Linked DNA regions of Homo sapiens. The protein of the gene in region 1 interacts with the protein of each later gene in a pairwise test. Each region holds a gene or a part of one and is shown in the gene's direction. Other genes may lie near its edges.

Region 1 (3,832 bases):
TACTGTTTGTATCCATCTACAACTTCTGTTTTTCTCCATAAGATTTGTGACATTCATCTGTGTTGATATGTGAACTTCTTTATTTAATTTTACCTCCATTTCTCTTGGCAGACTGGGCCTTTTCTAAAAATCCCCAGAGTGCTAAGTGTTAGACCCCCCCTAGGTAATCCTTTGCCAGCAGTCTGTGGCCTCCTAGCTACTCTTACTACTCAGTCCCCCTCTGATGTTCAGGTCTCACTGGCCTGCACAGATATTTGAACACACTCCAGGCAACCAGCCAGCTCATTTCATACCTCTAGTGGGCTTGCTGATGTTTTCGAAAAGGAGAAGCCCTTGCTAGCCGTGTTTATGTGGCTTACTGTTTCCTACCTCCCATCAGCAGACTTGCACACACGTCCAAGGATTGATTCTGGTGTCTGAAATGATCTTTCGAGGTGAGACAGAGGCTTTTTCTTTGGGCATCTAGTTAACCAACCTGTCAGTGTCAGACTACTAGTATAACCTGGCCAAATTTAGAACAAACCAACCCCCATTGGTACTTCAAAACGGTGACAGTGTTAGCATTCTGCTGTGCCCCTGTGCCAACTCTTCTAGTACTCGCCGTGCACATACCTTCAAGAAACCTCTTCCTTCCCATCTAGGACCTAATCCGGAGAGACATCCTGTACTACAAAGGCCGCATTGACATGGATAAATATGAGGTAGTTGACATTGAGGATGGCAGAGATGATGACTTCAATGTCAGCATGAAGAATGCCTTTAAGCTTCACAACAAGGAGACTGAGGAGATACATCTGTTCTTTGCCAAGAAGCTGGAGGAAAAAATACGCTGGCTCAGGGCTTTCAGAGAAGAGAGGAAAATGGTACAGGAAGATGAAAAAATTGGTAAGTGACCTGAGAGTAGAAAGAAGAACATGGCTATGAAGAACATAGGAGGTTTGAATTGGTTTCCATTTTCTTGGAGTCAGAGGGAAGATTTCTGTTGCAAACTGACTTAAGCTACTTTGGTGGTTCCTTATTATTAGGTTCTTTTTGGTAAGTACCAATAGCTTCCATTAGTCAGTGGTAGGTTTGAACTATAGGTTGTCCTCCCCTACTAGCTAAGAATATCACACTGAAAGCCAGCCTCAGGCTTGATTCTCCCAAACATACATTTATTAGCAAATAAACAAAAATCAGTTATACAACCTGTTCTGTAATCTTCATAAAGCCTGAGCTCTCTGTCATTAGGTATATAGTTTGTACTCCTGATTAGGATACTTCAGATGTTAACTAAATCCCCCTAGACTGTAGATTCAAATAATATGCACATACACTTCACACTTTCTGTGTGGAAGTATTTAAAGTAAATTATAGAAAATATAACAGGACTTAAAACCATGACCATTTTCATGATTTCAAATCACACTGAAACATACTTTTTTGCCTTACAATAAGTTGTTTCTCTTTTCCAGTGGGGATATAGATAGTAGAGATATTTTTCATGTTGCTTCCCAACTGTGGGATTTAGACGCCATTGGCTATAGCTTTGTGACTTATAAAGTACTGTCTGGTCTCTTGCTCATGGTCCTGCCTTTCTGTCATAAAAAATACCAAGCAACCAGACTTGTTAATTCCCTGAGAAGACATACAGTTTCTGTCTTTGCCCTATTGCTTATGGGAGTGAAATTGTACTTTAGAAGGCCTGAAAGCTCAAGTTTATGGAAATTGTCTCTAGAAAAATGGGCCTACTCATTGAATCCTGGTGCAAAAGGGTTCTCTTATCCTTCCATGTGGGCGATTGAAATTATCCAGAGGTAAGAAAGGATGGTCAGAAAGACAAATCTAACTCCAGTCTTCTCCTCAGAACTTGGGTAGAGTGCAAATTAATAACTCACTTTGAGTCTCATTGGAATCAGACTGCTTTCAGTATGTGGACACTCCATTGGGACATGATGTGGAGTGGCATATAAATGTTGCTGGCTACTTCTCTCAATAGCAAGCAGCAGCAGCCACTGACCTTGCCTAGGCTGTTAGAGTTATTAAAGGAATGGTCTTAGTGTTCAGACCCTGAATCAATTAGAAGGCCCCTGCCATTCCCATTGGCTCTAACACAATGTCTCCCACACAATGCCCTAATAAACCTGTGACTTTATCTGCTTCTAATAGAAAAGCTTCTAGAAATTACTTTCTGAACAGGCATATGTTCATCTTTAAAAATGTTGAGGTTTTTTTTTTTTGGTTTGATAATAACAGTAAATCACTTCCATTGTAGGAAATTTAGGGAAAAAGCAACAGAAAAGTACAAGAAAAAAAAAAAACACATGAACATACTCAGTAATAACTTTCATAAACATTTTGATATATATTTCCAGCCTTTTTTATGTGTCTAATTAGAAAAATCAAGGTGACTGAATCTTTTTTCTTTCTCTCCCCATACCTGCCTCTCTATAGTGGATAGATATAATTTTGTATCCTCATTTTCACTCATCATTATATCATTAGCATTTCTATCAGATCACTTCATATTTTTAATCATTATTTTATGAGGGTCATATAGTTTTATCATAGCTTTTTTAAACTTTTACTTTTTAATTATAAAATTAATGCATGACCATTATAACCATTTAAACAAATATGGAAATATATAAAGAAAACTTAGCATTCCTTCCCCTTCTCTGTCACTTCCATACTGAATGAAATAACCAGTGTTAACAGTGCAGTATGCATCTTTCCATACTTATCTCATGTCCATATAAACATATACAAACATAATACTTTTATATTTACAAAAATTATATTATATATATTACCTTGTAGGTTGCTTTTTTAAACTTAATTTATCATAAGTAACTCCCCAGATAAATAATATAGAATCTAACTATAACCCCTTGTATCAGTTAGGGTTCAACCAAAGAGGCATAACCTGTAGGAGATATATCATACCACTGCTGAAAATTGCATTACAAGGAATTGGCTTATGTGATTGTGAATGTTGACTAAGTGGCTCAGAATTCCATAGAGCAGGCAGTCAGAAATGGAGGATCACAGGCAGGCTCAAACCCATGGACATAGGCCAAAGCTGTCATCTACAGGCAGTCAGGAAGAGAAGCTCATGAGAAGGATGAAGTGGCACAGACATGGGCTAAAGCTGTGGTGCACAGGTAGAATTTCTGCCCTTTCTGTGTGAGACCTAGGCTCTACTTTTAAGGTCTTGCAACAGATTCAGTCAGGTCCATCCAGATTATCTAGGATATTGTCCCTTATATAAAGTCAACTGATTAGGGCCTGTATTAGCCCATGTTCACAGTGCTATAAATACCTGAGACTGGGTAATTTATGAAGAAAAGAGGTTTAATTGACTCACAGTTCTGCAGGCTTAACAGGAAGCATCACTGGGAGGCCTCAGGAAATTTAGAATCATAGTAGAAGGCAAAGGGGAAGCAAGCATCTTCTTCACATAGTGGCAGGAGAGAGAGAGAGCAAGAGGGAAGTGCCACATACTTTTAAACCATCAGATCTCGTGAGAACTCACCCACTATCATGAGAACAGCATGGGAGAAATTCCCCCCATGATCCAATCACCTCCCACTAGGCCCCTCCCCCAACACATGGGGATTACCATTCCACATGAGATTTGGGTGGGGACACAGAGCCAAACCGTATCAGGGGCTTTGATTATATCTGTAAAATACCTTCATGGCAACACCTACATTAGTGAGGACTACAGTCTAGTCGAATGGGCACATCAATAAATTCATCACACTTTTCTTATAAACAGCTGTATAACATTCCATAATATTATGTAATAACCACAGTCATCTCTTGGTATGCACGGGATATTGGTTCCAGG
Region 2 (3,832 bases), on another chromosome or scaffold:
GTGTTGGAGAGATCAGCCAGTTAGCCATGGAATTAAGTAAAATTTAAAGTAACATGATTTAGAGTCAAAATAAGTCATATTTACAGTGTGATGTTATTTATATAAAGTTTAAAAAACATGCAAAATCATACATTATTTAGGGATACATACATAGAAAATAAAAATATAAAAATGAGTGTGAAAAATGCCAGATCCAATAGAGTGGCTTGCTAGGAAGGGAGGGAGGGGTATGCCAGGGTGTTTTGTTTTGTTTGGTTTTGTTTTGTTTTTGACACGGGGTTTCACTCTTGTTGCCCTGGCTGGAGTGCAATGGCACGATCTCGGCTCACCGCAACCTCTGCCTCCCAGACTCAAGCAATTCTTGTGCCTCAGCGTCCTGAGTAGCTGGGATTACAGATGTGTGCCACCAAGCCCAGCTAATTTTTATTTTTAGTAGAGATGGGGTTTTGCTGTGTTGGCCAGGCCAGTCTCGAACTGCTGGACTCAAGTGATCTGCCTGCCTCGGCCTCTCAAAGTGCAGGGATTACAGTGCCCAGCCCTGATTGTGTCTTATATTATGATCTAAATCTAGTTTATTTTTAAAAAGTAATATAAGCCCTAATTTATGTATGTTAGGGAACTAGAGAAGACATGAGTTAGTAGATGCTGGGGGTAGGGGTATGGAAAGTTTCATGAGGGGTGTAGAATTTGAAGAGAATGTTGCAGGATGGATACAATTTTGAAAAGGGATGTAGAAAATAGAAAAGCATTCCAAGTAGGGAAAAGAGCCTTATTTAATAATGGGTTTAATAAGTTTGGAAGGTGGAGTGGAGATCAGTCTTTCTTAGAGCTGAGTTTGGGTTTGGAAGGAGTAGGTATGGTACAGACAGTGAAAGGTGAATTATAAATGTCAGGAAATTGAGCACCTTAATCATTGGGCTCTTCTGGTCTATCTCCATTTAGTCTCTGTGATCATCTCGGTTTCTCTTTTCTAAATTCTTGCCTGTCTTTTTTAAGCTGCAATAAGCTGATTTATTATACAAAGTGTTCCAGTTTTAGATACATCATGGTTCAGTTCAAGAATATGTTAACAAATTCAATTTGGGCCCTGATACCTTTGCTGATGAAGTCCATCATTTATCTTAGCCTTCCTGGCTATGCCAGCACCTTGGGCTGACAGCTTTAAAAAATAGTCTACTGTGATTTTAAGATTCCTTTCCTAGATGGTAATTGATGGCCTCTGGCCCTTCAGCCTGCACAAATTAGGTTTGCTTTTCTTCTGCATGGGTTACTGGCAGATGGTAATACTTCTTTAAGGTAATACTCTCTTATTTTTCTACCCAGTCACCTTACCTAACCGGCCTGTTGAGATCTTCCTGCAGTTTATCCTCTGATTTTATATTTTATTGTGAGGAGGGCTTGTGGGCTTGAAGAATTCAGGTGTACTCTTAGATTATTTGCAGCTGCTAATGTGCATATCAGTAGCCCTTTGGGTTTTTTTTTTTTTCCCGTGGTCAGTGGGGGTGTCTAACACCCCCTTCCTCTCTCAGCAGAACTTTCCCTTTACTCTTTGATTCCTCTTTTTTTCTCTCTGCCTAGGAAACCCTTTAAACACATCAATTAGTATTGTTTTCAAAGTTTGTATTTCTGTAGTAATATATGTAATAGTTTGCTTACACATTACTTATTAATCTTCCAGAGAGGTTTAGGGAGTAAAGATTCTTATAGCTAAAGAAGTAGGGACTGTATTCATAAATTAAAGATTATATGTAAGATTTCCTCTGAAATCTTAATAGGAATCAATGTGAAAGTGATTGATTTGGCTATATTTTTATTTAAGAGCATCCTTTAGGATCACCTCTGTTATGTGAAACAAGTATTTGGTAAGCTTGTTTCAATTTCTAAATGTTGAGTATGGATTAAATTATAAAAATGGGAGGGAGGAAGAAAATCAACATTTCTTGGGCACTGAGTGTTTGCTGGGTAGTGTTCTAACATTTGCAAATCTACGTCACTTCCTGCTTAACATTAAATTAGCATTACCACCCACCAGGAATTGTGCTAAAGGGCTTTCAACATATCGTCCCACTTAAACCTTCTAACCTTCTCAAGATCGCTTATTTCTTATAAAGGTGATACTTGTACATGATACTAAATCAGAAAGGGTTTGCAGTGAAAACTAAGTCTCTTTGGTGTCCCATCATCTTCCAGTCATCTGGTTCCTATTCCAAACTGCTGCTACCAGTGTCTTTTGTATTCTTTCAGATACTCTGATATTCTTTCAGATACATAGACCTAATCATACATAAAATGCATGTATCTATTTTAAAGATTTTTATAAAAATGGTGTCATACATGTAGTTCTGCATCTTTTTTCAATTAATGTCTGAGTTTATTTCATGTCAGTGAATATAGAACTGCCTCATTCTTTTTTTTTTTTTGAGACGGAGTCTTGCTCTGTCCCCCAAGCTGGAGTGCAGTGGTACAATCTCGGCCCACTGCAACCTCCGCCTCCCCAGCTCAAGCCATTCTCCCGCCTCAGCCTCCTGAGTAGTTGGGATTACAGGTGCCTGCCACCATGCCCGGCTAATTTTTGTATTTTTTAGTAGAGATGGGGTTTCACCATGTTGGCCAGGCTGGTCTTGAACTCCTGAGCTTAGGTGATCTGCCTGCTTTGGCCTCCCCAAGTGCTGGGATTACAGGCGTGAGCCACCGCACCTGGCCAGAACTGCCTCATTCTTTTTAAAAGATATACTGTAATTTATTTAACTACTTTCCTGTTGGTAATTATCCTTTCTATTTTAATAGGTAAGTTAGCTCCTTTATATTTATTGGAATAACTGATATATTTAGTTATTTAGTTTAAGTTCAATTTTTAATATTTTCTTCGTCTTTTTTTTTTTTTTTTTTTTTTTTGAGATAAGGACTTACTCTGTTGCCCAGGCTATAGTGCAGTGACACGATGATAGGTCACTGTAGTCTCAAACTCCTGGGTTCAAGTAATCCTCTCACCTCAGCCTCCCAAGTAGCTAGAAGTACAAGCATGCACCACCACAGTTGGCTAATTTTTAAATTTTTTGTAGGTACAAGGTCTTGCTACGTTGCTCAGGCTGGTCAAACTTCTAGCCTCAAGCAGTTCTCACACCTCAGCATCCCAAAGTCCTGGGATTACAGATGTGAGCTACCATGCTTGCCCTTTTAAAAATATTTTCTTCTTAAAAAAGTCTTTCACTATGTGGACTGTGCTTGCTTTTGAGGGGAGGACATACATATATATATATATATACACACACACATATATAATATATATATACACACATATATAATATATATACACACATATATAATATATATATACACACATATATAATATATATATACACATATAATATATATACACACATATATAATATATATATACACATATATATAATATATATACACTATATATAATATATATACACTATATATATAATATATATATACACTATATATATAATATATATATACACATATATATATACACACACACATATATATATTCTGATAATTTGGAAGATTTATCTTTTTATTTTAGTGATTGTGTTTATAAGTGTAACTTTATACCATATTTCTTCAGACAGTACCTGTTGGCTCCCTACCATGAGTAATGATGAAATTAGTAAGTATATTTCCTCACCCCTCTCTTCCCACCTGCTTCTAGTTGATTATATTATTTTTCTTGGTTTTATTTTCTGTCGTAAAACATCCATATTCGTCTATTAACATTTGCAAATCTACATTAGGATTTAATGTTAAACAGGTAGTGACATAGATTTGCAAATTGAGCTATCTGCTTTAAATATCTTCTGAG

The links.
Region 2: the proteins of ARHGEF9 (region 1) and TBC1D22B interact in binary tests that used the Homo sapiens proteins (3 or more experiments, as listed by UniProt).

Annotation. Positions count from the first base shown.
Region 1 is NC_000023.11:63,652,547-63,656,378, reverse strand, and holds part of ARHGEF9 (rho guanine nucleotide exchange factor 9), read left to right. Parts: intron 1-641; coding exon 642-885; intron 886-3,832. UniProt on the Homo sapiens protein: Acts as a guanine nucleotide exchange factor (GEF) for CDC42. Promotes formation of GPHN clusters.
Region 2 is NC_000006.12:37,264,060-37,267,891, forward strand, and holds part of TBC1D22B (TBC1 domain family member 22B), read left to right. Parts: intron 1-3,832. UniProt on the Homo sapiens protein: May act as a GTPase-activating protein for Rab family protein(s).